Regions from separate parts of the Homo sapiens genome. Here region 2 is linked to region 1. The links come from fine-mapping of genetic effects on gene expression. Tissue or cell type: blood mononuclear cells. Region 1 holds a variant in brackets; the other region holds the start of a gene. All regions are shown on one strand. Distances are from middle to middle. Region 1 overlaps LINC01511 (long intergenic non-protein coding RNA 1511). Region 2 holds the start of LINC01511 (long intergenic non-protein coding RNA 1511).

Region 1 (15,750 bases):
TTTTTTGCATATTTTCAGTACTGTCCTCTATCAGATAAGTCTTTTGCAAGTATTTTCTCCCAGTCTGTGGCTTGTCTTCTCTTGACAGAGTCTCTTGCAGAGCAGAAGTTTCTCACATTAATGAAGTCCAACTTATCCATTATTTCTCTCATGGATCATGCCTTTTAGATCCAACAGGCATGTTGAATGTTGAATCTAAAACGTCATCTCATGCCCAAGGCCATCTGGGTTTTATTCTATGTTATCTTCTAGGAGCGTTATAGTTTTGTGTTTTACATTGAGGTCTGATCCATTTTGAGTTCGTTTTTGTGAAGGGTGGGAAGTCTGTGTCTGGATTTGCTTTCCTGCACATGGGTGTCCTGTTGTCCCAGCACCATTTGTTGAAAAGACTCTTTGTCCCATGGAATTGGCTTTGCTCCTCTGACTGCATCCACATGGGTCTGTTTCTGGGTTCTGCACTCTGCCCCCTTACCCGCCCCCTACCCACCCCCCGCTTATCCGCCCCACCTGCCCCCTTATCCGCCCCCTACCCGCCCCCTTATCCACCCCCTACCTGCCCCCTCCTCCATCTTTCATTCACCACCCTGCTTTGATTAGTGCAGCTTCATCAGGAGCCTAGGAGCCGGGCAGCATGAGTCCCGTGACTTTGTTCTTCAATTTTGTGTTGGTTGTGCTGGGTCTTTCCTCTCTCTATGTAAACTTCAGAATCATTTCTCAATAGCCACAAAATAACTTGCTAGGATTTTGATTGAGTATACACACACACACACACACACACGCGCGCACACACACACACACATATTTGAGATGCTCCTGGAGTGCAGTGATGCGATCTCGGCTTACTGCAACCTCCACCTCCCGGATTCATGCAATTCTCCTGCCTCAGCCTCGCTAGTAGCTGGGGTTACAGGCGTGTGCCACCAGGCCTGGCTAATTTTTGTATTTTTAGTAGAGATACGGTTTCACAATGTTGGCCAGGCTGGTCTCAATCTGCTGACCTCAGGTGATCCTCCTGCCCCGGCCTCCCAAAATGCTGGGATTATAGGTGTGAGCCACCGTGCCAGACCTGAGTATACATTATTTTAAGTGATAAATTTTGGCAATCTTGTATTTGTTCTTCTAAATTATAAGATATGGTTAGAAAGCCTTTTCCTCTCCTGTGACATCCTGCAGCTGTGTTTTCAGCCAGACCTTACTTCCTTCTCGCATGAAGATCTCTGGTCTTTGGGGATTATTCTGGTGTGGAAAATAAGCTAAAGGTTAAGTTGTATCTTTTAGTTTTCTTTTATTTTTTTTCGAGATAGTCTTGCTCTGTCACTCAGGCTGGAGTGCAGTGGCACGATCTCAGCTCACTGCAACCTCCGCTTCCCAGGTTCAAGCAATTCTCCTGCCTCAGCCTCCCAAGTAGCTAGGATTGCAGGCACCCGCCACCACACCCGGCTAATTTTTGTATTTTTAGTAGAAATGGGGTTTCACTGTGTTGGCCAGGATGGTCTCAAACTCCTGGCCTCGTGATCTGCCCACCTCAGCTCCCAAAGTGCTGGGATTACAGGCATGAGCCACCACGCCTGGCCACTTTTGTATTTTTAGTAGATGTATGGGTTTCGCCACATTGACCAGGCTGGTCTCGAATTCTTGACCTCGTGATCTGCCCTCCTCGGCCTCCCAAAGTGCTGGGATTACAGGTGTGAGCCACTGTGCCTGGCCAGTTGTATCATTTTCTATGTGGCTATCCAACTGTCCCAAAAACTTATTGTCAAAAGTCCGTCTTTTTCCACCTCATTGTATACCTAATCTCTACATATATTTGGTTCTATTTGTAGACTTTATCTTCTATTCCGTTGGTCTGCCTATCTAGAAAGCAAAATTTCAAATACTGAGACCGATAGATGAAGATGCTTTCGCTTCTTCCCTGTTTCATCCAGTTGGGGACTAAGTGTCCTTCGGTTTGGACTGTGCAGCTCGGGTCACCTTCTCTGTGGAACAGCAAGTGAAGAAAGAGGCGCAGAGCCCTGTGTTCCAAACCCTGGAGACAATTGAGAAAGTGGGAACCCATTATTCCCCAAGCCCAGCCAGCAAACCTCACCGATGAAACAGATAAGCACTTCCTGCAGGTGGGGCCGACACTGGCCAGGACACAGCCCTCTCTCTCACAGCAGTGTTCCAGGTTGTTTGTGCACAAAATTTCACAAAGGTCAGAGCTCGTCTCTCCAAACCGATGAGCTTTGCGGTTAACCTGAATTCACTGAACTGGGATTTATTATTATTATTCTATTTTACCTCTAACAGAAGTTTAAGGTTCGTGTAAGTTTCGTTCCTCTCTGATTGTAGGGGAGACGCCCAGAGCGCCATTTGGAGGAGAGAACCTGGCATCCTTTCCTTACCTTGATTTCAGGTACCCAGCTCCTAGCAAATGTGTCTTCCTCCCAGGGTTCTTTGGGGTAAAGAATTTGGTGAGAAGGAGCTGAATGTTATGGCTGCGTTTCTCAGCCACTTGCTCGGAGCCAAGCATCCTCTCACCCTTTCTTTCAACTGGTAGCCAGAAAATACGGGTTGAGCATCAGGGATTCTCAACCGTGTCAAGCTCCAGCCCTGCCTGTTGTGACAGACGTTTCCTGATGCCTGTTGCTCTCTGGAATGAAGGTCATGGGCAGTATTACCCACACAGCCATTCAAAATCAGTCGGCTTCGTGACCTGTTGTGAAAGGATGGCGATTGCCGTGCCAGCACGTGACATGGACTCGGATGCCTGCGCACACAGGTGCACCTTCCAGAAGGTGAGGTCAGCCCGAGCGCCCACCGCCATGTGAGTGCGCTGCTGCAGTGACCAGTTGCTGGAATGTTCTGAACAGAGCCCAGTGCCACCCACTTTGATGTGCGCTATTGTTAGATCTCCGGAAAAATCAGAGTGCATTAAATTCCTGCAAAAATTCTGTGTGTCTGTCTCTACGTAAATGAGCTAGGGCTTTGCTCAGCCTCCTCCCTGCATCTGGCAAGAGGAGAAGCAACTTTTAATTCATGTACTTGAGGGCAGCCAGCACCCAGCACCACACCACAGCAGCCCCTGGGGAGGGCAGCACCCAACACAGCACAACCCTAATTCGTGTACTTCAGGGTAGGCAGCACCCAACACACCACAGCCCTTCCCAGCCAGCGGGACAACCACCGAGAGCCCCGAGAACTCCCACAGCAGCCCCAGGGAGGGCAGTGCAGGGCCGTGCATGCAGGGAGGAGGGAAGAACCAGGAGCAGCCCAGGCTGCCTGGACCCCAGCAGATGAGTCCACTGGTCCACAGAGCGCTCACTGCATGGCCCAAACTGCTGCTTTTTTTTTCTTTTGAGACAGAGTCTTGCTCTGTCGCCCAGGCTGGAGTGCAGTGGCGTGATCTCGGCTCACTTGCAACCTCCACCTCCACAGTTCCAGTGACTCTCCTGCCTCAGCCTTCCGAGTAGCTGGGACTACAGGCACCCGCCACCATGCCTGGCTAATTTTTGTATTTTTAGTAGAGACAGGGTTTCCCCCGTGTTGACCAGGCTGGTCTCAAACTCCTGACTTCAGGTGATTCGCCCTCCTCAGCCTCCCGAAGTGCTGGGATTACAGGTGTGAGCCACTGCGCCTGGCCAAACTGCTTCTTTTACTTTCATTTCCCTATGGAGAGCCAACGCCAGTCACTTTCCGTGGAAACCTGATTTTGGCTCTTGTTGCTGAACTAGAAAGAGGATGGCCGTGTGGACTCCTCCGGAGCTTTCTCAGCCTCGCTCACATTACCCTCCTCACCATAAGGACTAGAATTATTGCAAAAGCTGGAGCCACGCACTTAAGAATAGGGAATGAAAACTCGCTTTTTTTGTGGATAAAGGAAAGCTGTTCCTCGATTCACGACACGGCTGACAACAAGCGTGTGGGTTTTGCACACCAGCCAATTCTCCGGGTCTCTGCAGACACCACCCGAGTGTCCTGCAATTTAATTCAGCTCCAACACTGCCCGGCGCTAGCGCAGATCCGGAAGGTTGAAAGCTTTGCCCGTGAGGCTGCCCCCACTCAGCCAGTCACAAGCATCGTGTCCCCAGGCCACCCACATGTCTGTCCAACGTGGCTGCAAATGGGCCCACCATCCCCTCCTTAAATTCAGTAATTTGCTGGGATGGCTCGTGGAAGTCAGGGAAACACTTTGCTTACCGTTACTGCTTTCTTGGAGAAGATATTGTGAAGAATACGCAGGAACATCCAGATGTGGAGGTGCCTGGGGCGAGGGCTGGTGGGGTCCCGGGCACAGGACATTCCATTGTCCCCATGGACTTGGGGTGTGCCCCCTCCCACACGCGGACGTGTTCACCAACTCTGAAGCTCTCCAAATCCCATGGGCGAGGGTTTCTGATGGAGGTGTCATGTGGACACAATTGGTGACATCACTGGTGATTTTTCGTTGGCCTCCATCTCCAACCCCTGGCCCCAGAGATTGAGAAATGGGGCTGAAAGTTTCAGCCTTCAATCACACGGCTGGTTCCCCTAGCAACCAGCACCACCCTCAAGCTATCTAGGGGCCTACCAAGAGTCCCCTCATAGCATAAGCTCAGGAGAGGTTGAAAGGGGCTTGTTATGAATTCTCACCTCCTACCATGCAGGACATTCCAAGAAGCACTGTGTCAGGAACTGGGGACAAAATAGAATAAATATATATATATTTTTTGAGACGGGGTGTTGCTCTGTTGCACAGGCTGGAGTGCAATGGTGCGATCTCAGCTCACTACAACTTCTGCCGCCCAGGTTCAAGCAATTCTCCTGCTTCAGCTTTCGGAGTAGTTGGGATTACAGGCGCGTGCCACCATGCTCAGCTGATTTTATTATTTTTTAGTAGAGACGGGGTATCACCATGTTGGCCAGGCTGGTCTCAAACTCCTGGCCTCAAGTGATCCACCCATCTCGGCCTCCCAAAGTGCTGGGATTACAGGCGTGAGCCACTAGGCTAATCCTGAATGTACATTTTCTACTGTCACAGCAGATATTCCCAGCATCCCCCTCCAACTTCCCACCCCTGAACCCAGCCCCACCATGAGTCCCAGCCTGCAGAAGACCCCACACCAGCCTCAGTCCCAACCCAAGACAGCCTCCAGCCCCTGAGTGTCCCCTCCAGTGTGCCCCCTGGAACCCGCAGACCTGCCCTCCACCCCAGCCCTGTGTCCTCTCCAGCTTTCTCTTCTCTGACAGGGCGACCCACCAGCAGCCACACCCCGAGGCTTTTTTCTTAAAAAACCCCACCCCCCAATGAGCCCACTGCACATCTCATTGATGCTGACAGCTACCTGCATCGTCCACGCCACAGCCCACTCCTCCTGTGGCTTAGCACCTGCATTGGACACCATTAACCACACCCTCCTCCTGCCCTCTGCCCTCAAAACCCCTAGGGCTCCCCAGCTTCTGGTCCCCCAATCCCTGCGTGTGGATGTCTGGGACACTCAGTAGCCTGGGTGCCCCTGGGACCTTGGAGAGTGCAAAGGTAGCTGGGGCTGTGCTCCACCCGGCCAGAAGAGTCAGGGTGTCCCCAGGACCATGAGGGGCCCCTGCAGGGACCCCTTGGCCACCATCTCACCCCATCTGTCCAAAGCTGGTACCTTTGGAAAACTCACACCCCTCATGCTCTGAAGCAGGAGCTGGGTGTTCACTGGAGGGACCCCGCCGGGAATCCTTTGAGTGACCAGGGCCTGAGAAAGGAGGAGCCTCAGGCTGTGATCACCCCGAGAGCCACTGTCAGGGCCCGTGTGGACCAGCAGCCACATGAGGGTGAGACCCCAGAAGAAGGGTCCCTCCATCTGGCCCACTCAGGGCACTGTGCAAAGTGAAAATGTGGAGTGCCTCATTAAAAAGCAGGGGAAAGTGCTGTGCAAGGTAGTAAAATATACAACTTCTTCTTTTTTATCAGAGTCTTGCTCTGTCGCCCAGGCTGGACTGCAATGTCACCATCTCAGCTCACCGCAACTTCTCCCTCCTGGGTTCAAGCGATTCTCCTGCCTCAGCCTCCCAGGTAGCTGGGACTACAGGCATGAGCCACCAAGCCCAGCTAATTTTAGTATTTTTAGTAGAAACGGGGTTTCGCCATGTTGGCCAGGCTGGTCTTGAACTCCTGACCTCAGGTGATCTGCCCGCCTTGGCCTCTCAAAGTGCTGGGATTACAGGCATGAGCCACCGTGCCCGGCCTAGCTTTTTCTTTTTCCACAGTTTCTCAACTTATTTTTTAGTTGCTATTTTATGTCATTCTAAGTAAAGAAATTCTGAAAATTAGAATCATTAGCATGGATCTGCCATTCATATATTGTCTAGTTTTATTTTTTTTACTTTAAATTTTATAAGAAATGAGTTTTAAGAAATGATGAATATAAGATAAATCAAAACCACAGTGAGTTATTAAACCCATTTTCTGTATTCAAACACTAAAATTCCGAAGGTGGAATATCATCCAGTGTGAGACATCATAGCCCGGCCCGTATGTACGCAGCACACAGAGCTGTGCCCGCGCTCATCTGTGAATTGCTCATTTACATGTCACTGATACAAAACCTGCAAGGGAACTTCTCAGTTCTCCTCTTCCCAATACATCGTCACCTATTTTTAAGGAACTTCAGGGATATGAAGAAAATACATTGAAGTGGGCTTCTGCTAAGGGCTCTCCGTGTTTTGCTCTGACGGATTACACACTACATCTTGAGAAAAACTTGCAGCTCATTTCCAGCTAAGACGGCAGAAAACTCTAGATTTTTGCCAATGTGACATTGTCCGGTTTTAAATGCAAAAAAGAAAGCATGGAACTCATCCGGAAGGTGAAATCTCAGTTTCTGTTTCACAGTTCGCACATGCACCTGTCCTCAGGGACCCCCAGAAAGGAGGAGAGGTCCCACAAAACCAGCACAGTGGCTGCTTTTATGCCACCTCCCAGTCACCACGTTCCATCAGCACCGCACCTTCCACAGGACCGCCTGAGGAGGAAGGACGGGGGCCCGGTCGCTGGCGTTTCCTCCCACTGGAAGCTGCTCGGCTTGAAGGGAAGGCGAGGCTGGGGCTGCAGCTCCTCACCCCGTCCTGGCTGCGACCAGCCCTGTGGTCGCCGTGAGCCTTGCTTATGTGCTCTGTTCAGGTTCTGAGCGGCGATGGGCTCGGAGGGCGCCCGTGGCTTGCTCTTGCAGGGGCTCCATGCCCATCCTATCTTGCTTGAAAAACATAAGCTTAGTGATAAAATTGGTAAGAATTTCAAGACGGCGACCCTGGAGCCGTGAACCCGAAGTGACCCTTAC[C/T]CTCCCCAGGCACAGCGGGGCACCCGGGGGCAGGCAGGGTGGTCCTGGAGGCCATTCTGGGAGGGGCCAGTGCCTCGGCCTTGATGCCCATGCTATCCCCTCTCCACGCGTCCTCACCTATCCCCGAGAGCTGAGCGACCGCCAGGAGCCAGCCTGCACCCCTGCCACAAGGCCTGGCCCTGCTCCTGGCACTGCGGGCTGGAGTTGCCCATGGGGCTGCTCAGTGCACAGCTCCTGCACCACGCGGGCATGGGTCCTCGTCCCCATGGGAGGGCGGTGCTGATGCCCAGTTCATGCCCCGGCCTGTGCAGATGCAGGGCACAGCCCAGCTCCTGCATGGGGTGCTGGGTCCCCTACGTGTGACCCCGTGGTTGGGGGCTTGCAGCCCTTCCTGCCACCTGCTGGCCTCTCCACGGCCACGTGCTTCCTTCCCACTCCCTGGGTGGCACAGGTGTGGCGTGGCCTGTGTCCTCCAATGTCAGGGGGCACATGCACAGCCCCCAAGGGTGGCTCCCAGCCTTGCTCTCCCACCCTCTTCCCCCTCAGGTGGGGCTGGGAGTCTCAGGACAACAACATCTCCTCCCCATGGCCCTCCTCGTCGGCACCACCGGGCCCTTGCACACACTTGCCAGGGTGGGCCGAGCAGGCAGTTCAGTGGGTGGTCCTGAGCCCTGGCCCCAGCCCAGGCATCTGGCAAAACCCTTCCTGGCCTCGGCTCCTCATCTGTGCAGTGGGCATGACCATCGCTCCACCTCGGGCAGTCGTGGGCATGGAACTGAGTTAATCCACCAGCGGGGCTCAGGATGGCACCCACTTAGGTCCATTGGTTTCTTTTACATCATCTGACGCCGTCTCTTGTCAAGCGCTTGGGCCACATCTCTGTGACATGGGGCTTCCTGCCACTGGCATGCACCTAGGAGCACTTCAGGCCCTGTCTGCACCCGCACCCCATGTCCCAGGAGCCCAGGGTCCCCCAGTAGCCTGGTCCGCTTGGCCCACAGGGGAGCTGCCTTGCTCTGGGAGGGCTCTGTGTCCCGCTTTGTAATCGTACATCACAGCTGTCACCATTGCAGTGGTCAAGGGGGCAGTGACAGCAACAGTCAGGCCAGGGGCTGAACTCCGGGCACCCGTCGGCACAGAGCGAGGGGAAGCTGGATGAAGCAGCGGGCGCGGCCGTGGGGAACCGACTTCTTCTGCCAGGAAAAGGGCTATTTCCATAAGCTGCTGGCTGTCAAAAGGCATTTAGCTCCCCCTGTGTTCCAGAGAACATAATCTATTATTTGTTCAAAAGTAGGTTTCCTGAGGTAACTACAAAACCCCCAATATTGATGCTAAGTCACATGGAGAGCTGTGGGAGGCTGGCCTGGCTTTTTGTAAGATAATAGCAGGGCTTGTGTGCTCTCTGCTGAAACCTGCCATCCCATCCATTTCCTCCTGGGAAACTGGGCCATCGATGAGGGTGACAGCCCTGCCAGCCAGCGACATCCTCCTATGCTCAGTGCCCAGGCAGCACGGTCAAAGGATGAAAATATGAGTGCTGGAGAGCCCTCTCCTCCCCGCAGTGCCTGCCACCCATCCCTTCCTCCTTCAGACACTGGCCCCCAGTAAGGACAAGAGCAGCACGATGCCCCTCCCTACAGCCATGCCCAGGTGGGGACCCCGTGGGCGGAGTCCAAGTCCTCCCTCTTCCCGCCTCCCTCCGATCACTTCCGGCCCTCATTACCCCCTTGACCCTCATTCCCATGAAGCTCACAAGGGCAGAGCCTGTGCTGACCCTTGGGGAAGACTCGAAGTGAGATTGGAGGGCTGTGGAGGACAATGGGCTGTGATGGGTGGGACTGTGCCTGCCTCCAAGTTTAAATGTTCAAGTCCTGACCCCCAGGACCTCAGAATGTGACGGTATTTGGAGATGGGGTCTTTACAGAAAGGATTTCAGTTAAATGAGATCAAGAGGGTGGGCCCGTTGTGACTGGTGTCCTTGTAAGAACAGGAGATCAGGAGGCGGACACGCAGAGAGGGGCGACCCGGTGAGGACTCAGGGAGAAGACGGTGTCTGGAAGCCAAGGAGAGGCCTCAGGAGGAAGTAGCCCTGCCACACCTGGATCTGGGACCGCCAGCCTCATGGACTGTACTTTGAGCAATAAATGTCCTGTCTAAGCCCCAGCCTGCGGTCGTCAGAGGCGCTGGAACCAGAGCGACTCCACCTCGAGTGAGGGCTGGAAAACGAGGCTAGGACTTGCTAGGCTCCACTCCCAGAGAGTCGGGCATTCCCAGCCTCTAGACGTTTAGAGATAAAGGAACAAATAAATAATGTTTACTAAACAGACCCAGACTTGGGAGTCCAGATACCCCGATATCCAGAGAACAAAGGCATTCCTAATTTTGCCTTAAAGATAAATGATATTGATTCTTGCAAAATATACTAATTAAGAAAATTAATTCTTTATCATCAACGCTCGTAGCAGAGCACATCTCCCCGTATACACCAGGATTGTACCCCAGGTGGGCGCCTTTCTCCTCTTAGTTTCGGGAATGCCCTGCTCTGTCTGTGGAGCAGCCGTCCTTTCGCCACTTTACTCTCTTAATAAACTCACTTCCACATGGGACTGCGGACTCCCCCTGAATTCTATCTTGTGCGAGATCCAAGAACCCTCTCTTGGGTTCTGGATCAGGACCGCTTTGCTGTAACACGGTGCTGCTCCGTGGCCACGTGAGCCGACGGATGCAGAGACCGACGGCGGGCTCTTCGTTACCCTGGCCCGCCCAGGCTCCCACGGCCCCCAGCCCTTCTGTTCTCGTGCTCTGATGGTGGCGCCGTGTGGCCTGCCCTGCGCGCTAGGCACTGCTCAGCTGCTCTGTGGGTGGGTCGTGGGCACTTGCTGACACTCTACAGGGAGGGGCCTTCCTGGAGTCATGAGACAGGACACTGAGAGCAGCCGCCTTGTCTGGAGACTGAGTCCCGTGTCAGGGACAAGCAGTGACTGCCTCCCTGACCTCTGCTTCCTCCACGCTGGCAACAAAGGCGGGAAGCAGGAGGCCGGCCTGACACCAAGAAGCAGATGGCAGGGGCCATGTTTCATCCCAATGCCCAGGAGCTGTTCCTGCGAATTCTGCTTGTACGTAGGTGATGCCCAAACTGCATTGTCCACACTTCCCCAAGCCTACAAATTCACTTCGTAGGATTTTATTTTTACTGAATGAATCCTACAGGGCTTGTCTCCCAAGTGCTGAGATGAACAGATGGTGGTTGCTGTCATCCCTGGAGCTCACACATCCCCCAAGGGCACCACAGCTCCTGCTGTAAATAAGCCCGTTGTTTTCTTTTTTCTTTTTTTTTTTGAGATGGAGTCTCTCTCTCTCTTGCCCAGGCTGGAGTGCAGTGGCACGATCTCGGCTCACTGCAACTTCCACATTCCAGGTTCAGGCAATTCTCCTGCCTCAGTCTCCTGAGTAGCTGGGATTACAGGCGCCTACCATCACGCCCGGCTAATTTTTTGTATTTTTAGTAGAGACGGGGTTTCACCATGCTGGCCAGGCTGGTCTTGAACTCCTGACCTCAGGTGTTACACCCGCCTTGGCCTCCTAAAGTGCTGGGATTACAGGTATGAGCCACCACACCAAGCCAAGCCTGTTAGTTTTCATGATCCGAGAATTAGAAATGAAAACACTGAGTTACAACATCTCTCCTAACAGGTTGGCAAAACTCCACAAGGTCACCAGCACACCTTGATGGGGAGGCTGCAGGGAAACACACAACCTCATGCTTTGCTGCTGGGATGCAAACAGCACAGCCCCTGCGGGAAGAAGCTCAGAGATGCCCGGAAAGACCTGTGTGCATTCACAACTGCATCCTTCAATTCCACTTCTAAGCAGCTACCTTAAAGTCACAAAATATCAGAAAATGGATGTTCAAGGTCATTCAACGTAACCCTGCTTTTAATACCTACAGACTTTTTTTTTAACCAAAGGATATATCCTGGCAAAATATATTATGTATATATATAACTAAATGGAACCTCTGAGATGAAAAATACCTTTGAAATGAAAAATTCATAATATGAGCTTAGCAGCAGTTTGAAAACTGCAGAAAAATACCAGTGAACTTGAATACAAGCATTAGAAAGTATTCAAACCTAAGCACGGAGACGGGAGAAAAGTTTCAACATAAACAGAACCTCACTGACATTGAAACAGCATCAAGCAGCTCATATACATATAACTGGAGTCCCAAAAGGAAGAGGCAGGCAGAGAAATATTTGAAGAAACCTTCACTGCAACATTTTCAGACTTGAATCTCACAGATTGATAAGCTCAGTAAGCCCCAAGCAGGACAGACAAGGCAAAAGCGCCAGACAAATACACACAAAACACAAAGAAACACAGAAGAACAGCTGCCAATCTGTCATCAGAAGCAATGCAAGTCAGAAGACAGTGGACTGAACGATGTGATTTAACATGACAGAAGAAAAAGTGCCCATCAACCTAGAGAATTAGTGAAAATATCTTTCAAAAAACGAGGGCAAATTAAGGATATTTCCATACAAATGACAATTGGTAGAATCCATTTTCAGTAGATCTGCATAACACAAAATGCTAAAGGAAGTTATTGAGGCTAAAGGGTATATATCAGCTGTATTTCACGTGACAGTGAAATGTATGACAATAAAGAAAGGAATAGAACAGAAATGGAACGTTACTGTTTAAAGTCATTAAAATCCACATGAAGGGTTATAATATCTGGAAGTAGACTAGCTTAAGTTTAAGCTGCAAATTGACAATTGTAGAAAAAAACACTGAACAAGTAAAGCAAAAAGATCTAGCTGAAAAGCCAATAAGAAGACATATTTGAATCCAAAAAAGATAAATTTATAATTCTAAAAGCAGGAAGAAAAAAGAGGAAAAAGAACAAAGAATGAATAGGACAAATAAGAAAACATTGATAATTAAATTTAAATGATGTAACACTCTAATTAAATGGCAGAGATTGTTGATTGAAATACAGAACTAACTCTAAGCCGCCTACAAGAAACCCGTTTTAAATATAAATACACAGATAGGTTAAGGCCAAGCATGGTGGCTCATGCCTGTAATCTCAGCACTTTGGGAGGCTGAGGTGGGAGGATTGCTTGAGTCCAGGAGTTCAAGACCAGCCTGGGAAACAGGGTGGAACTCCATCTCTATAAGAAATACAAATATTGCCTGGGTGTGGTGGTGAACCCCTGTGGTCCCAGCTACTTGGGAGGCTGAGGTGGGAGGATTGCTTGAGCCTGGGAGGGTGACGCTGCAGTGAGCCAAGATGGCACCACTGCACTCCAGTCCAGCCTGGGTGATAGAGCAAAACCCTGTCTCAAAATTTTACTTAAAAAAAAGAAAATAGGCTGGGCGTGGTGGCTCACACCTATAATCCCAGCACTTTGGGAGGCCAAGGCAGGTGGATCACCTGAGGTCAGGAGTTCGAGACCACCCTGGCCAACATGGTGAAAACCTGACTTTACTAAAACTACAAAATTAGCTGGGCATGGTGGCAGGTGCCTATAATCCCAGCTACTCGGGAGGCTGAGGCAGGAGAATCACTTGAACCTAAGAGGCACAGGTTGCAGTGAGAGTTAGATAGTGCCATTGCACTCCAGCCTGGGTGACAAGAGCAAAACTCCATCTCAAAAAAAAATGTGTAGATAGACAGATAGATACATATGTATATTTAAAACACAGGTAGGTTAAAAGTTAAAGGAGAGAAAAGGGCATGCCAGGGAAGCGCTGTCAAAAGAAAGCTGAAGTAGTTATGTTGACACGACACAAAGCAGATGTCAGAACAAAGAACATCACCAGGGATAAACAAAGACAACAGGGTCAAGACATCAAGAGGACACAATGACCCCAAATGAGTATGCTCCTACTAACAGAAATTCAAAACACATACAGCAAAATTCAAAAACTCTTATCACTGAAACATGATTACGTTGGGTGTAGTAAAAATGTTCAACTTTTCTCTTTGAAAGTCACCAGAAGGAGAGTGGTGTTGGCAACAGGGCTGACTAGAACTGTCTGGCGCTCATCCCCTCCTCCCCACAAAGAAGGATCAAGGCAACAAGTTGACAGTGACAATTTGACTGGAGCGTCGAAGGCAGAGTGCTGGACTGCAGCAGAGGCCGGAGACACCCCTGTGGTGCTCGGAAGCCCAGGTGGCGTCTGCTGCCCAGTCTTCCTCACCCACCAGTTTGACCTAGAAGCAAAGAGGGACTTCCAGTGGCAAGGAAAAGGTAAGCAGATCTCCACCAGCTGCCACTGCTACAGCAAATGCTGGCAGTCCTTGCTGCAGGAGAACCCACAGTCCTTGCAAGCCCTGAGCCCAGTTGGGAGCACTGCAGGGAATTCTCACAGCAGTGTTCCCCCGATTAGGAGCAAAAGGTGTGCACCTCCCACCCCACACCCATGCCATGAGCCAAGCTGCTATTGCATCTGGAGGGGCTCTGCCCTGGGGCCAGTAGCACCTGCACCTCTCCAGCACTGGGGCTCCACTTTCATGCCACCAAGCCCACATGGGCAGCTGAACACCACAACCCCAGCTGCATAGAGCTTGGGCCCAGGCTTAGCTGTGACTCTGGTCCTGCACAGCAGGGAAACCCATCCCCACCGCAGCTCTTCCAGCTGTCTGCTCCTCCCACCTGCAGCAAACCCACCCTTGAGCCAAACAGCTGCAGGTCTCCCCACATAGGCCCCACCAGCCTCCAAGCAACTGACAGCAGGAGCTCAGGGCCTGAAAATCAGCCCCACGGCACCCCCACCTGCAGGTACGCCCCTGGCCTGCCCAATGGCTCTGTGCCTCCAATAAGGGCCTAAGAAAAAGTCCCACAGGCTGCCCCTGGCAATATACAAAAATCAGTAGCATTTCTATACACAAACAAAAACCTAGCTGAAAAAGAGATCAAGAAGGCAATCCTATTTCCAATAGCAACAAATAATATAAAATACCTAGGGATAAATTTAACAAAAGAGGTGAAAGACCTCTACAAGGAAAACTACAAAAAACTGACGCAAGAAACTGAAGAGGATATGAACAAATGAGAAGACATCTCATGCTCAAGGATTGGAAGAACTAATATTGTTAAAACGACTGTGCTACCCAAGGTAATCTACACATTTAAGGCAATGCCTATCAAAATACCAATGGCATTCTTTTTAGAAAAAGAAATAATATTAAAATTTGTATGGAACCACAAAAGACCCCAAACAGCCAAAGCCATCCTGAACAAAAAGAACAAAGCTGGAGGCATCACACTCCCAGACTCAAAATACACTACAAAGCTACAGTAACCAAAACAGCATGGAACTGGCATAAAAACAGACACACAGACCAATGGAACAGAACAGAGGGCCCAGAAATTAATCCGCTTTCTACAGCCGACTGATTTCCAACAAAGGTGCTAAGCACACTCACTGTGGAAAGGACAGATTCTTCAATAAATGGTGCTGGGCAGTGGCTTACACCTATTACAGCTACTTGAGAGGTGGGAGGATTGCTTGTGCCCAGGAGTTCAAGACCAGCCTGGGCAACACAGCAAGACCCCGTCTCTACAAAAAGTTTAAAAATTAGCCAAGTGTAGTGGTGTGTGCCTGTAGTTTCAGTTACTTGGGAGGCTGAGGTGGGAGGATTGCCCGAGCTCAGGAGTTTGAGGCTGCAGTGAGCTATGAGCCACTGCCCTCCAGCCTGGATGACGGTGCGAGACCCTGTCTCTAAAAAAAAATTTCTACTCTAGTGCTTACAGCAGACCAATTCATAGTGACTGAAAATGGGGACATCCTACCGCCTATCGACTGCCCATCAGCATCTGGGTGGCTAGCCCAGCTGTGGTGCATTCACACCAAGGAATGCCACTTGGCAATTAAAAGGAACTACTGTTATGTGGAACAATGATGAGTTTCACAAACACTGTGCCAAGTAAAAGAAGCCAGATACAAAAGACTGAGTGATTCCATCCATGTAAATTTCTAGAACAGATGCATCCACAATGACAGAAAACAGTCTGGCTGCAAAGGGGCAAGAAGGAAGTTTTGGTTTTTGTTTGGAGTCAGGGTCTGACTGTCACCCAGGCTGGAGTGCAGTGGTGAGATTGTGGCTTACTGCAGCCTCCACCTCCCAGGCTCAAGCAATCCTCTTACCTCAGCCTCCCAAGTAGCTGGGATCACAGGCATGTACCACCATGCCCAGCTAATTTCTTCTATTTTTGTAGAGATGGGGCATCACTATGTTGCCCAGGCTGGTCTTGAACTCCTGGGCTCAAGTAATCCTCTCGCCTTGACCTCCCAAAGTGCTGGGATTACAGGCATGAGCTACAGCACCTGGCTGTTTTTAAGTAATGGAAATGTTCTATATCTCCGTTGTAACAGGATTTGCATGGGTGAAGACATTTGTCAAAACTCATAGAATTGCACACTTAGAATGGGTTTTCTTTATATAAATTAT
Region 2 (15,750 bases), 20 kb before region 1:
GCAGAAGGGGGAGTCAGCCGGGTGAGCAGCTCTGCGCCCCGCCGGCCCCCACACCGACCACAGCAGAGGAGACCGGCGGCCTCACTCCCCGCGCCGGCCCCAGAGCCCCGCCCGTGCAGGTGCAGTAGGGCCCGGGGCACAGGCGCGGGGGAGCCGGCAGGGATGGCTGCGCCCAGCCAACGGCAGCAGGACCACGAACACCCCACTGCACCCCGTTCCATGAGGGCAGCTTCCTGTGAGCCAGACACGGCCCTGTCCAAGGGATCCTACCGCCCCGGCCCAGGCCACGCCCCAAGGAACGCCCTGTGGGTGGTGCTGAGCGGCACAGTCCCCAGGCCCCGCGGCCGGCCCTGCATTCGCTCTCTCGTGCCTTCCCTGGGGGAAACGCCCAGCCTGGCAGCACAGAACCTTTAGTTACACAGGCCTGAGTTTGAGGTCCGGGGAATGGGAAAGTGAAACGTGATCGCTGAACCTGCGTCTCCCATGTTCACACTATGTCCAGCAGTGAAAGTCCATCGAGCCTCCGACCCAAGCAACAGGCATTCTTCTACCCTTCCCCTGGCTGGCCTCCCTTCCCACCTCACAACGCTCACATGAATAAAGCGTGTCCCTCATGCCACTAGAAGAGCTCAGCCTGGGCCACAGCCCCCTCTTGGTGGCCCTGGAGAGGCCTCCTCTCCAAGAACACCAGCCCACCATGGTCCTCTGAGGACGCAGGGCCAGACACCAAGCGGGCAGGTGGCACGGAAAGAAAATATCGCAAGCTCTGTTCGCCTAAAAATATCGCTCTTCTAAGGTGAATGCAGAAGAATTTTCATGTATATGACTGACCTTCACAAATCCAGCCAGCATTAGCCCATCAAGCACTGAACACATTTATCTAGAATTTAAACAATTTTACTTATTCTGCAAGCTGAGATCCTCTTTACTTAAAACTGTTTGTCATATAGATGAAGGGACCCGTCAGACAGAACATTTTATTTGGTTAAAAATTGGATGGCATACATATTTACACAGTATTAGTGGGACAGAAATGACCGTTTTGAAGTATGCCCTCAGCCATGGCTGCTGGCCATGGGCTCCAGCCGGCCACGCCCTGCAGGTCCCCATCGTTAAGCTCATCCTGGTTCAGAATCAAAGGTTAATATTTAAGTGGCTTTTCAATTTGTGTATTCAAAGATAGTATTATGACCTGTAAGCTACAGAAACATTCTCATATCCTTTAAGCCTTGTTCACACAGAGAAACTGTATCTAAAATTCTAAAAAGTTCTATTAATCACAATGGTAATTTTTAAAGCTTAGAAAGAAGAGGAAAAGACATCACCTGTAGGTCTGTTACCCAGAAACGGCCAACACCCCACCGGTGCCCTGAGTTCATCCCGTGCCCATGCCGAGGCCTGGTTTGCTCCGGGTCCTGTCGCCAGGACACTGGACACTGCAGCTGGGCAGCTGCAGACCCTCCCTGTACTTTCTCCACCCAGGGTCGGGCATCGGGGTTGTGGAGGGACAGGCAGATGGGAGAGGGCAGGGGTGAGACTCAGGGCTGGGCCCTGGGTTAGAATCTCTGGCTCCCTCACTTTTTGGCAAGGGTCCAGGCACCTGTGCCTCAGTTTACTCATCTGTGCAGAGAGCAGTCATCGCGCCCAGCACAGAAGGCTGTTGAAAGGATTGGACAAGTTAAATGATGGAAATGGCTCAGATGTTTATGCACCAGTGCCACAGATGTCCCAGATCCATGTAACTATCAGTCTAATGCTACCGTTACCACTCTTAAAAGTATTTCAGATAATGAAATAAAACAGACTTTCCAGATTCTGACATGATGTAAAAAGGCATCCGTAGGGATCACTGACCTGAGGTTTCTGGAGATGAGCCTGGCCCTGCCATGACACAGGTGGGGTCATGATGCAGAGGACAGCCACCTGCAGCTGCCACCACCTGACAGGATACAGGACAGTCACCCCCACCTGTCACCACCACGGAGGACAGAGGGGACAGCCACCCCCACCTGTCACCACTTGAGAGGACACAGGACAGCCACCCCCACCTGTCACCACCTGACAGGACACAGAGGGCTTCTGGGAACCACTTGTGTTGTCTGTGTGTCCAAAGGGCGTGAAAGGACAGCCCAGTGACTGTTGCCTGCACAGAAATGATGCCCTTGAGACCGGAGGCCCAGGACACCTGCCCCTGATGGGCTCAGCGCTGATGGGCTCAGCGCTGATGGGCTCAGCGCTGGGCTTGAGAGCAGGAGTGTGTCCTGCTTCTGCATGTGTGTTCTGAGCAGAGTCCCTTTCCTGCGTGGCTGCCAGGACACTCAAAGCCACTGCTGAGCTCAGGTTCAGTGATGGAGTGGAGCTGTCGTTTCCTCCTGTGTGGTAGCCATACTCCCAAGGCCCCCCACCTCCTGTTGGTGACACCCTTGTTTGGTGTCCCGGCGATAACCATATTCTAACCCACAGAACACAGCAAAGTGGAGTGGAGGAATGTGATTGTGTTACACAGGATTGCAATGCCCATTTCTTTGGAACCTGGCCCTCCCCTGTGGCTTTGAGGAAGCACATGGCTGGGCCGGGGAGCCCCAGGTGACACGAACAGCAGGTGGCCTCTGGAAGCTCACGCAGCCTCTGACCAGCAAGGAAGTGAAGTCCCGAGTCCACAGCAGCAGGGCCCGGGATCCTGCCAATATCCCAAGGAGCAGAACCCAGGTGGACCCTGGCCCACGGGAGCCTTGAGTGAGACGGTAGCGGTCTGACGTCCGCGCTGCACTGGTGAGGCCTGAGCAGGGGACCCCGGAAACCCGGAGGGAGATGTGGACTCTGTTCAGCCGTTTGGCTCATGGCTGGCATTGCCATACGCGGGAGGCACTCGCTTCTCTGCCATTTTTATTTTGTATTTTCTTGTTAGCAGCCCTGGGAGGGGCCTGGCACAAAATATGCCTCAAACACTGTGGAGAGAATGAAGGAGGGTGAGCAGGGGGTTGGGGGGGGGTGCTCAGGAACCCCTGGGGAAATGAGGTGTGGTATGTAAAAGCAAACATTTATTATTTGTAATAAAAACATTCACTGTTTTCTGTGTGTGTTTATTTGTTTGTTTTGAGACAGAGTCTCACCCCATCGCCCAGGCTACAGTGCAATGTCGCCATCTTGGCTCACTACAACCTCCTGGGATCAAGCGATTCTCCTGCCTCAGCCTCCCGAGTAGCTGGGATTACAGGCGCCCGCCACCACACCCAGCTAATTTTTGTATTTTTATTTGTTTTTCTTTTTTGTTTTTGAGATGGAGTCTCACTCTGTTGCCCAAGCTGGAGTGCAGTGGCGCCATCTTGGCTCACCGCAACCTCCACCTCCCAGGTTCAAGCAATTCTTCTGCCTCAGCCTCCCGAGTAGCTTTGTATTTTTAATAGAGAGAGGGTTTCACCATGTTGGCCCGGCTGGTCTCAAACTCCTGACCTCAAGTGATCTGCCCGCCTCAGCCTCCCAAAGTGCTGGGATTACAGGTGAGCCACTGCGCCCAGCCAAGACTCACTATGACATGGAACTTCTTCCATTTGTTTTCGCGTTTTGGGCTCTGAAATACTTACTGGTAGTGCGTGATCACCGCAGTGCCTTCCCTAAACGGGGAGCCGTGCCCACGACACAGGTCCCCCAACACACCAATGTGCCCCCACCCCTCCAGCCTCAACAGGCTTTCCCAGGCCTCTGCATGACCGGGGTGCTGGAGGTACATCCTGGGAGGTCCTTACCCAGGGACTGAGGTGTGAACGCATGAAAACGCAGCCTCCCTGCCTTGCACGGGCAGCTCAGAGCCATAACTCGTCCCCCAGAGCACCTCTCGGCCCGTCGCCACCCACGGGGCACTTCCTGAGAGCAGAGCCTGCTCTGCCACCTCCCTCTGAGGCCTCCCTGCTACTGTCGGAGACCACCACCCTCCCAGGCCTCCCTGCTACTGTCGGAGACCACCACCCTCCCAGGCCTCCCTGCTACTGTCGGAGACCACCACCCTCCCAGGCCTCCCTGCTACTCTCGGAGACCACCATCCTCCCAGGCCTCCCGGCTACTCTTGGAGACCACCTCCCTCCGAGGCCTCCCTTCTACTCTCAGAGACCGCTTCCCTCATTAGCTCTGCGGAAGCAAGCCCTCTTCCCGGGACCACGGTGGCTGCAGTACGGGTAAGTGGGTGCCGCACTGGCTTTTTCTGGAACCACACGATCAAGAGGGTTTGGCTACCGAAATGCCTAGAAAGCTTCAGGACCAGGCGCTCTCCTGAAAAGCTATTTGGTCAAGTGAGTGGTTTAGGTGGGCATGCGTGTATATGTGGGCGTGTGTGGGTGTGTGTCCATGAAAGTGGCCATGTCTGTGTGCGTGTGTGCATGTAAGAGTGCCTGAGTGGGTGAGTGTTGACCATGTGCATACGTGGGTGTGTGCAGGTATGTACGGTGTGTGCACATGTGGGTGTGGGCATGCATGTGTATGGGTGTGTGCACAGGTGTGTGGGTGTGCGTGTGGGGGTGTGCATGCAGGTATGATGTGTGTGCACAGGTGAGTGTGCAAGCGTGTGCAGGTATGCATGGGTGTGAGGTGTGCACGTGTGTGTGGGTATGTGCCTGTGTGTGGATGTGCATGGGTGTGTGCCGGCATGCATGGGTGTGGGGTGTGCACAGACAGGTGTGTGCATGGGTGTGCATGTGTATGGGCACGTGCACGTGTGTGGGTGTCCATGTAGGGGTGAGCATGTGTGTATGGATGTACGTGTGCACAGGTGGGTGTGCAAGTGTGTGTGGGTGTGCACAGTGCAGGGGTGTGTGGGTGTAGGTGTGCACATGCCTGATGGTGGACAGGAACCTCAGGTTCCTTCCTACTGCTCTTTCTGGCCCCACTAGTGGATCCGGAGTAGAAACCAGCCAGAGAGAAGCGCACAGGGGAAGCACAGCCATCACTTAGCAAAATCACTTAGTGAAATCTGGGGGAAAATGAGAGTGGGCTGAAGGCAAAATCAGTGTGCTCTTTCAGCTGGAGAACATAGCAATCAGGGGAATAGGGGCATGGAACAGCCCAGAAACTGGATACACAGAGCTGCGCAGCCGTCATATGCCCCAGGAGGAGGAGGGCGGCGGGTGTGTTCACGCACCACGTGCAGCCCTGGCTGCTCTGCTGCTGGAGTCCATTCGGGCTGCTGTGACAACACGCCTAAGCCTGAGCCACTTGTCAACAACAGACATTTATTGCTCACAGTCCTGGAGGCTGCAAGTCCAAGACCAGGGTGCTGGCGGATGTGGCGTCCCATGAGGCAGCCCTCTGCTTCCAAGACGGCGCCTCTTGACAAGGCTCAGGGTGGACAGAGCGAGGGAGCTCCCTGGAGCCTCTTCTACCCGGGCCACTCATGCCATTCGTGAGAGCACAGCCCTCGTGATCTACTCACCTCCCAAAGGTCCCACCTGTTAACACCATCACATTGGGTATTAGGTTCCAACCTATCAATTTTGGGGGCCACTAACACTCAGGCTACAGAAACTACTAATGCATCTTGGGATATTGTGAAACTGAAAGGTGACAACGTGCCAGCAGCCCTCGCTGGCTCTCGGCGCTTCCTGGGCCTCCGTGTCGGCTCTGGCCGTGCTTGAGGAGCCCTTCGGCCTGCCGCTGCGCTGTGGGGCCCCTCTCTGGGGCTGGCCGAGGCTGGAGCCAGCTCCCTCTGCTGGCGGAGAGGCGCGGGCGGGAGCGGGGGCTGAGCGCAGCGCTCGCGGGCGGCGCGGGTTCCGGGTGGGTGCAGGCTTGGCTGGCCCGCCGACGCCTGCTGGGCTTGATCTGGGGATGAGCTCCCTCTGGGCTGCCGGAGTGCCCAGGGTAGATGCTGCAAAGTTCTAAAGGGAGTGCTACTGAGAGGTGAGGCCGGCTGGGCTTCTGGCTCCGGTGGTGACTTGGAGAACTTTTCTGTCTACCTAAAGGATTGTAAACACACCAATCAGCACTCTGTAGCCAGCTAAAGGTTTGTAAATGCACCAATGAGCACCCTGTCCAAATGGACCAATCAGCTCTCTGTAAAATGGACCAATCAGCTCTCTGTAAAATGGACCAATCAGTTCTCCGTAAAATGGACCAGTCAGCAGGATGTGGGTGGGGTCAGATAAGGGAATAAAAGCAGGCTGCGGGAGCCAGCGGTGGCAACCTGTTAGGGTCTGCTTTTGTCCTCTGGGAGCTTTCCTTGTTTGGTTTTCGTAGTAAATCTTACTGCTGCTCAGTGTTTGTGTCTGTGCTGCGTTTGTGAGCTGCAACGCTCACGGTAAAGGTCTACAGCTTCACTCCCGAAGCCAGCGAGACTGTAAATCCACTGGGAGGGGCAAAGAACTCTGGACGTGCTGCATTTTTAGGAGCTGTGACACTCACCGCGGAGGTTTGCAGTTTCACTCCTGAAATCAGTGTAGACCACGAACGCACCAGAAGGAACAAACTCCAGACACACCGTTTTTAGGTAACCGTAACATGTACCGCGAGGGTCTGCGGCTTCATTCTTGAAGACGAGACTAAGAACCCACCAACTTCTGGACACAAAACCACCCCAAAAAGTGAGTTTCTAAAGGAGAAGCTAAAAATAAAGACCACGAAAGTGTTGCCCATGGTGATAGCTCCAGACGTCCGGAGACGGTGTTCAGCGCTGCTGCAGGAGAGGTATGTGGGCAGAGTGGGGAACCGCATTCCTCCATGGAGGCTGCTCTGGAGGGCTGGTGCCTGCATCGGGGTTGCATTCAGCCCCTAACAAAGCTGTAGGCAGCCGCTCCGTGTGGTGCGGGGGAAGCCGGTGCAGGCATTACTCCTACAGCGTTCTGTGGTTTCTTCTCGGGAGTGATACAACCCACTGTCTCCACTGTAAGGTTTAGTTAATGCTGGGTGACAGTCTGATCTCACGTAGCCAGGTACAGATAAAGTACAACACACTCCTTAGTCTCCTTCCTTTCCTGTCCGCCAGGTGCCCACAGGGGGCCTGCACTTCAACTCCTGAGCAGCTGGGCTCCCACCCCTAGCCTGAGCCCTGCTGTTTCCTGCTCTCTGCCCTGTATCCTTGTCAGAGCCTCAGCTCTCTCCCTGTGCTGAGTTGGCGCAGGTGAGACGGAGGGACCAACGCCTGGCCCTTAACGTCAGTGCCTAGTGCACACTTACCCAGTGTGTGCGTGGCCTACCAGCGGTACCCAGCCATGGGGCGGCAGGAATCCCTCTCTGCCTGCAGTCCTGCCACCCTGGTCTTCTGCCTCCCCAGGGAGTTTCCACTTTGCGGAGAAGTGGGGGCCAGAGAGATGGGGGGAGTTAGTGGAGGGAACAGGGAGACAGACCCTTCCCTTCATGGTCCTCAAAGGTACAGGCGCTGGTGGGCTTACCTTATTATGGAGGCTGCAGCTTTTGTGTTCCTTCCAGGACCACAGAAATATACCACACACCCCCCAAAGTAAATAAGTGATTAAAATCAACCGGGATGGGGGCTTGAAGCCGAAATGGAATATAAGCAGTAACAGGTGAACCTCATCGAAGGGAGTGGGGAAAAGAAAACCTACCGCATGCTTTGGAAGACAGTATCATGGGCTGTAAGACAAAAAGAATGGCGTGCAGACACTGTGCCCTAGTTTGTGAAGCTGTTTTGCACAGCAACCTGGGTTAGCAATTATGAGATTACTTTGTGTGTGCTCCAGACTTGAGCAAGCAAGCATATTGTGGGTAATTAGAGCCGGATACATAATTTGCGGGACCTGGTGCGAAATGAGATTGCAGGGCCCTTGCTCAAAACTCATTAAGAACTTAAGGATGGCGACAGCAGAGCTTTAAACTCTGAGCAGGAGGCCCTGTCTGGCCGCTCAGGTCACCTTCCAGCGGCCGCGCTGTGGGTGACGAGCCTCGCTGCTGGAGAAGGGAGCTACCAGTAAGGAGCATGGGAGGCTGGGAGGGGAGGCGGCAGTAGGAGCTTGTAGTTTCAGCACGGAAGTGTCGGTAGACGGCTGGGTAGACGGGTGTGAGCCTGGCATGGGCCCGTGTGTTCTCACCGAGGCTTTAGCTGTGTCCACTGGGGGACCTCGGAGCAGGGACACCCTACAGCCATGGGCACCCCCAGAGCCGGATCTCGGGCACTAACATCTTTCTCCAGGTCAGGCACTGGGGCCCCCAGATAGCACTGAGGCAGGGAGGGTTCCCGGGTGAACATGGAGTGGTCCCACAAAGTAAGGTAGAGCGCCCAAAGGGCAGCGGGGGGGGGGTGGTCAGTAAGGCAGAGCGCTCAGAGGGCAGCGGGGGGGGCCAAAAGGATGCAGGACCAATCTACACGGCTCCAGAGCCAAACCTGGGATAATCGGAGCAAAACAATACATAAGTATACCAATGGGCCAGGTGCAGTGGCACGTGCCTGTGATCCCAGCACTTTGGGAGGCTGAGGCAGGTAGATGGCTTGAGTCCCGGAGTTCTAGACCAGCCTGGACACATGGTGTGAAACCTTGCCTCTACAGGAGATAAAAAATCAGCTAGGCATGGTGGTGCATGCCTGTGGTCCCAGCTACTCAGCAGGCTGAGGTGGGAGGATCATCTGAACCCAGGAGGCAGAGGTTGCAGTGAGCTGAGATCATGCTGCTGCACTCCAGTCTGGGTGACAGAGCGAGACCCTGTCTCAAAAAAGAAAATTATAGTAATAGTTCATAACTCATAAGGCTAAATGCCCACAAGTCCATACATAAATGCATAGATAAATAAGGGGGAAGAGGGTGAAATGCTCGTCTCCTCCGAATTGCAGTTAATGTAGAAGGAACGATGGTAACAGAGAATGGCCATTTGGCAAACAACACAGGAATCATCGAGGGATGTTGCGATTAGTAGGCAAAATTAGGATGAGAAATGGGATATTTCTTGGCCTCAAACTATCTCCCGACAAGATAATTAAAGGGAAAATGTAACTTTGTGGCAGAGAGCCCTGGCAGATACCCCTGCTCCCAGCAACCGAGCTTAACACGCCAGTAACAGGCCCAGATCATAGGTCTCCTGATGAGATGCCCTGAAGTCAGCCTGGCATAGCTTCTGTGGGTCCTGCCCAGAGGATATGTCCTAAATGCAGTCATGAGAAGCAGCTGTGTGCTGGGCAATGGCCCCACACTCCAAGCTGTCCCCACTGGGAGGCAGCCAGGGAGAATGACAACCAAATGCAATGTGTGGTCCTGGACTGGGCTGTGGGCCAGAAAGACACTGGGATGGGGCCTGTAGATAGTTAATAGTATTGCATTTCAAATAATTTTTTAAAAACAGTATTGCGTTGGTGTTAATTTCCTAATTTTGAACATTGCACCATGGTTCTATGTGAGATAACTTCTAGGGAAACTACTTACAGGATATGCTGGAATTCTTTGCACTGTTTTTGTTTTTTGGTAACTTTTTTCATGACTGAAATCATTTCAAAGTGACTATTTAGAAATTAAAAATGAAAACAAGATGATCTTTTATCCTCAGAGAATATCCTTCTAAGTATAAACAGTGTGAGTGCTGTGCTCACAAGTCACCTGAAGGCTGGGCGCGGTGACTCACGCTTGTAATCCCAGCACTTCGGGAGGCCAAGGCGGGCGGGTCACCTGAGGTCAGGAGTTGAAGACCAGCCTGACCAACGTGGTGAAACCCCATCTCTACTAAAAATGCAGAAATTATTCCAGCATGGTATCCCAGCTACTCAGGAGGCTGAAACAGAATTGCTGGAACCCGGGAGGTGGAGGTTGCAGTGAGCCGAGACCACGTCACTGCACTCCAGCCTGGGCAACAGAGCGAGACACTTTTTTTGTTTTGTTTTGAGACAGTTACTTGAAATAATTTCACTTGTGTGGTTGCATCACCAGCACTGTGATACGTAGTTGTCCTGTGGCAAACGGTGCCCTCCAAACACATGTCCGCCCACAACTTCAGAATGTGAACTTGTTTGGAAACAGGCTCTTTGCAGATGCAATGAGTTAAAGTGAAGTCATTCTGGATTAGGGCGGGCCCTAAATCCTGTAGCTGATGTCTTATGAGAAGACATCAGACAGACCAGCACAGAGGAAGAGCCCCACGCTGAGAGGGAGCAGACTGGAGGGATGCAGCCAACAGCCAGGGCACACCCAGGGCCACCAGCAGCCACTGTGTGGGAGAAGGGGGTGGAAGGAGCCCACTCTGCCTGCACGTCACTGTCACACTGTGGCCTCTGAGACGGCAGGTGCCTGTTGTCCTGAGCCATGTGGTGTGCAGCACCTTGTTATGGCAGCCACAGGAGACCAACATCACCATCCAGCTCACGTCTCCACTTTAGAGTTCACCTTCTTCCTTTCGATGGCGAGGACGGCATTCTGCAGACGTGGAAGACTTACACCCTCGGAAGCCAAAACCACAAAGCAGGATTCCTTCGGAGAGGTCTAGCTGCTGTACAGATAACTGCTTTATTAGATTTTACGTTCCTTCCCACCCAACCTTCATTTCCCCCATGATCAGACCAACGGTAAGGCAGCCTCACCCTTTCTGCCCCTTTGTCCTTTAATGCAGGAAAGATGAACCCTAAAATTGGGGTTTTGCCGGGAGGGTTCTTGACTTCACCCAGGAAAGAGTTTGAGGGCAAGCTGGAGGTGTTAGCTGCTCCTTGTGGAGCGGGGTTGACTCACAGGCAGTGTGCCCAGAGTCCACAGTGTATGGGCTGTTGGCAACTGTATTTATACCCACTTCTTTTACATGCAGATTAAGTAGAGATCAATGCAAATTGAGGGGTGGGTTATTTAGAATTGTCTAGAAAAGAAGTGACAACTTCTGGGTCGTTGCAATGAAAAAAGGTGGTAACTTCCAGGTCATTGCCATGGCATTTGCAAACCATCATGGCCCTGGTGGGAGGGTCTTATGCCAATGAGCAATGATGGCAGCCAGGGATCACCCTCCTCGCCGTCCCCTGATTCCTGTCTCCACTTCATCCCATCCAGCCCAGATCCTGTTTTGGTCAGTGGGTCAGTGACCAGAAAACAAGTCCTGCCACCTTCCTACCTCATCCCCTCTCTTCAGAGATGAGATCCTTCCCCTTAATCTTAAGGGGGTGCAGAAGGGCAGGGTCTGTCTTCTGGGATTGCTTCCTGCTGTGTTCATGGGCATAGGTCCTGTGTAAGGTTAGAGGAGGGAAAATCTCTGATCTAAGGGCCCCAGAGGCCAGACACTTTCATTCTCCAGGTCAGAGGATAGGATGGGTTGAAGCCTGTACCAGTGTTGTCTTTGTGTGGAATTGTTGCAATCTACAGGACTCGAGCTTTGCTAGGAACCAAAAGTTAGTAATGATAAGATAGTTATTAAAGGTCCTGGGAAAGGTCCTTTGCCTTTCCTACAGCCCACATGGTTGCCAACAGCCCATATGCCGTGGACTCTGGGCACACTGCCTGTGAGTCAGCCCGGCTCCACAGGGAGCAACTAACACCGCCAGCTTGCCCTGTAACTCGTTCCTGGGTGAAGCCAAGAACCCTCCTGGCTAAACCCCAATTTTAGGGCTCATCTTTCCTGCATCAAAGGAAGATGAGGCTGCTTTACCGTTGGTCTGATCATGGGGGAAATGAAGGTTGGGTGGGAAGAAACCCAAAATCCAATAAGGGAGCCAAAAGTTAGTAATGATGAGATGTCATTAAAGGCCCTGAGAAAGGTCAAAACCAGGCAAGAAGAATCGGTATGGCTGATGACTGCACGTGCTCCTCGCCATGTGATTTGTGTATTTGCAAAACAACAGCTTTACACCTTCCAGGGGCTCACAGGTGAAGGGCATGCTGTCCTCCCCTCATGCCTGCAGGGACGCAGAAGACGCAGGTTTAACCCTGGACAGGTGTACCCAGCGAGTGACTTCCTGCAGTTTAACAGCAGTGGGACACAACAGCTGAACCTCTGGGACACCAACCCAAGCAGTTTTTGTTTGTTTTGTGGGACAGGGTTTCGCACTCTCGCCCAGGCTGGAGTGCAGTGGTGTGATCACAGCTCACTGCAGCCTTGACTTCCTGGTCTCAAGTGATCTTCTCACCTCAGCCTCCCAAGTGGCTGGGACTGCAGATGTGCGCCACACCCACACTACATTTTTTTTAAAAAGTGGTGTGTGGTGTTTTTTTTTGTTGTTTTTTTTTTGTAGAGATGGGTTTTTGCCATGTTGCCCAGGCTGGTTGTGAACTCCTAGGCTCAAGTGATCCACCTGCCTTGGCCTCCCAAAGTGCTGGGATTACAGGCGTGAGCCACCGCACTCAGCCCAAAGAAGTTTTAGAAGAAGCTGGTTATAGCATTAAAAGCAAAAATTCTCATAACTTAATAAATCAATACCTTAAGAAAACCCAGTTCCAATACATAGATCATTCCCTAGAAAGTCTACCACAAACCATTTTTCTTTAATCAGCAGGGTGCAGTGGCTCATGCCTGTAATCCTAGCACTTTTAGGAGGCCAAGGCGGGCAGATCACAAGGCCAGGAGTTCGAGACCAGCCTGGCCAATATGGTGCAACCCTGTCTCCACTAAAAATACAAAAATTAGCCAGGCGTGGTGGTGGGCACCTGTAGTCCCAGCTACTCAGGAGGCTGAGGCAGGAGAATCACTTGAACCCGGGAGGCAGAGGTTGCAGTGAGCCTAGATCATGCCACTGCACTGCAGCCTGGGTGACAGAGTGAGACTCTGTCTCCAAAAAAAAAAAAAAAAATTTCTTTAATCACAGCAGGCTTAATTGCACACAAAACTACTCTCAGAAGTTCCCCTTCACAAACCCCATTACAACCCACACAGACCACCCATGACATGCCTGGACTCTCTGACCTGTCCTACACCTCCCTCACAACCAGTCTCTTTATTCTGGGACCAGAGATCCTTTCTCATACAAAGTCAGTCTTTCTTGGCCGGGCGCAGTGGCTCACGCCTGTAATCCCAACACTTTGGGAGGCCGGGGTGGGTGGATCACCTGAGGTCAGGAGTTTGAGACCAGCCTGGCCAACATGGTGAAACCCCGTCTCCACTAAAAATACAAAAATTGGCCAGGCATGGTGGCGGGCACCTGTAAGTCAGTCTTCATACCCCTCCTGAAAAAAAAAATGTATGTATGTATAACTCCCCACTTCTCTCTTTTCTACTCGTACTGGTTCCCTCATATTTTGAGCCCCTCATTTAATACTTTCTGGACAAAAGTTATTCTTTTCCCAATAATGTATCTTCCCTAGCACATTTTATATACAGGTAGGAAGCAAGAAATCTTCAACTGCCCAACAGACATTAGCATCCTGTAGATGAGAAGCATTCTACAGTTTCAAGATTTTTAAGCCATACAAAACTCACTACCTAAAGCCATTTTAACCATTCCAAAACCTATGAACATCTGGTTTACCTAGGTAAAAATTAAATTTTAGAAGACACAACATTCCCTTCAAACTAACATGTTTAGACTTATTTGTTTAATTTATGAGCACTCTTATTTATAAGCCAATGTGATAGCATGCTAGTCACAACACATATCATGCAAATGAAGTGACCTGTACAAGACAGCTGGACCCAAATTATTTATAAAATTGGGACCTGTTTACCTGACCAAATTTTATTTGCCCTGATAAGTATGAAAGACAAGGGGAAGTGGAGAAAGATTCTGTAGGAAAGGGGGGTGGTGGTGAATTATATGGCTCAGTGTGAAACCTTGCAGTCCCTGAGCCACCAGAGAGCTCACCCAGCAGCGGAGACACCAAAGAAAAATGTTGAAGTGGCCACTTGTCAGCCTGCAGGAAGCCATCCACCAGGCCAAGGGTCTGAGGCCCCCAGTACACTTACTTGAGCAGAACACCTCATTGGGGTCAGGAGATAGAGACCATCCTTGCTAATATGGTGAAACCCTGTCTCTACTAAAAATACAAAATATTAGCCAGGCGTGGTGGCGCACACCTGTAGTCCCAGCTACTTGGAAGGCTGAGGCAGGAGAATCGCTTGAACCCAGGAGATGGAGGTTGCAGCGAGCCAAGATTGCACCACTGCACTCCAGCCTGGGTGATGGAGCGAGACAATCTCAAAAAACAAAAAACACCTCATTGGGACTAGCAGAAGGTTAACTCTAGTATTGACAGGCAGCTTTTATCTTTCTCACCAGGGAGGGTTAGGACATTCTCATTGCCAATGGCCCTTTTGCTTATGGTAGGCACACTGATTCTGACCCAGGGGCCAGCAAGTCAAGAGCTCTTGTCTGGGCATGTCAGATGCCAATCTTAAAACACACTCTCAGGATGGGTAAGGCTGAGGGGCAAGGCACTGACAGCAACTGTTAGCAATTGTACATTTTGGCTATTTATCTTGCTTTTAATTCTACCTCTTGCCCTGTTCGTATTGTTGCAAACTTTAAAGGGCATGTTTAGGAGTTGGCTCATAGGGGTTTCAGGTCCCGTTTCTGCTTTCTGTAGCTTCCTCTTCATGTCGGAGGCAGGTTCAGGGATAAAATGTATACCCAGGAGACCTTGCCCTTCTGGGGAGTTGGGGCCTGCGTCAATACGTTTCCCGAGTACCTCAACCAAACTACCTTGAAACAGTGTGATTTTCATCCTTCCATGAGTTATTTCTCTAACCTTGTCATAACTGACTGGCTTAATCTCACACGTCTCCCTCTGCCTCTCCCTCATGTCACAGCAAGTGAGCAACAATGCTTGTAAGTCATGACAAGTGAAAGAGCATGGTAGACTTGATTCTTCCATAAAACCCCGGATTATCTGAAAACCGGCCACGTGCCTCCTTGCATGAAGCCAAGTCAGACATAGAAAATGGCACCTGCACTCCAAGTGCCCCCATTTCCGTCAGCTGCCTCTTGCCACAGACACAAGTTTGACTTGAAGGGCTGATATGGGGCCCTGCTTCTGGGGGTGCCCGTTGGACCTGCTTTCTTGGCAGTTGGGGGTATAGGCTGGGGCTAGTTGGATAAGGGGGGTGGGGGCCTGATGGCCCTGGGTGGAATCCTGCGCTGGCTGAACACCCCCTCAGAATTGGGGAACTGAGGAGGGTCCAAGGAGGGCACAGGCCTTCTAGGGGGAGCAGCTATGAGGGGTTCCCTTAGATGTGCCTTCCTGGTGCCTGGAAGTAACATGAGCCAGTAAAGGGCCATAAAAGCCTGTACATACGGGACCTCCTCCCACTTTTCTTCTTTTTTATGGAATAAGTCCAATTGTGAAATAGCATTATAATGTGTAGAACCATGTTTAGACCAGTTCTCTTGATTTTCTAATTTTTGTGTTGGACCCAAATGGTCTTGCAATAGAAAATGAATTTCTTTAAGCCGAATTTCATCTATTACATATTCTATACATCAAAGATGAAATTAACAACCCTTCGCTTACCATCAAAACTACAGGACACTGATGATACTGATGCTATGAATATGCAGATTATGAAGACTTAAATTTTGACTCTTCCATACTCAACAGATCTAAAGCCGGGAAAGCTATTGATTACTATAAGCTATGATGAAGTTGACAATTGAGTAGTCTTCCCTATAGAAATATCAATTCATATACTGATTTCGTCAGAAGACGTTTTACGTTCATGAGCCGTACCGTCACCGGGCCTGAAAACAGATGCAATTCCAGAACATCGAAACCAAGCAACCTTAATGTCTACACCACCAGGCTCTTACCACGACCAGTGCTCAGAAATCTGCAGGTCTAACCACAGCTTTATGCCAATTGTTCTTGGGCTAGAACTAGTACCCTGAAGAACATCAAACACTGGCCAGCATAAAAGACACTCCAGCTG

The links. PIP is the estimated chance that this variant, and not a neighbour inherited with it, causes the effect.
Region 2: LINC01511 starts here. The variant in region 1 is fine-mapped to the expression of LINC01511 in blood mononuclear cells (TOPMed, PIP 0.99).

What each region holds. Positions count from the first base shown.
Region 1 is chr5:1,350,765-1,366,514 of GRCh38, reverse strand. It overlaps LINC01511 (long intergenic non-protein coding RNA 1511), which reads left to right. Exons shown (of 2, transcript NR_125810.1): 2 at 1,824-2,933. Among named protein-coding and RNA genes, the nearest start is that of CLPTM1L, 14 kb to the right of the region's middle. RefSeq lists enhancers at 7,148-7,703, 7,704-8,259, 8,260-8,815. The variant C/T (reference allele first, on the strand shown) is at 7,287.
Region 2 is chr5:1,370,481-1,386,230 of GRCh38, reverse strand. LINC01511 (long intergenic non-protein coding RNA 1511) reads left to right here and starts at 6,158. Exons shown (of 2, transcript NR_125810.1): 1 at 6,158-6,669. It also overlaps the pseudogene MTCO2P32. RefSeq lists enhancers at 1-106, 163-457.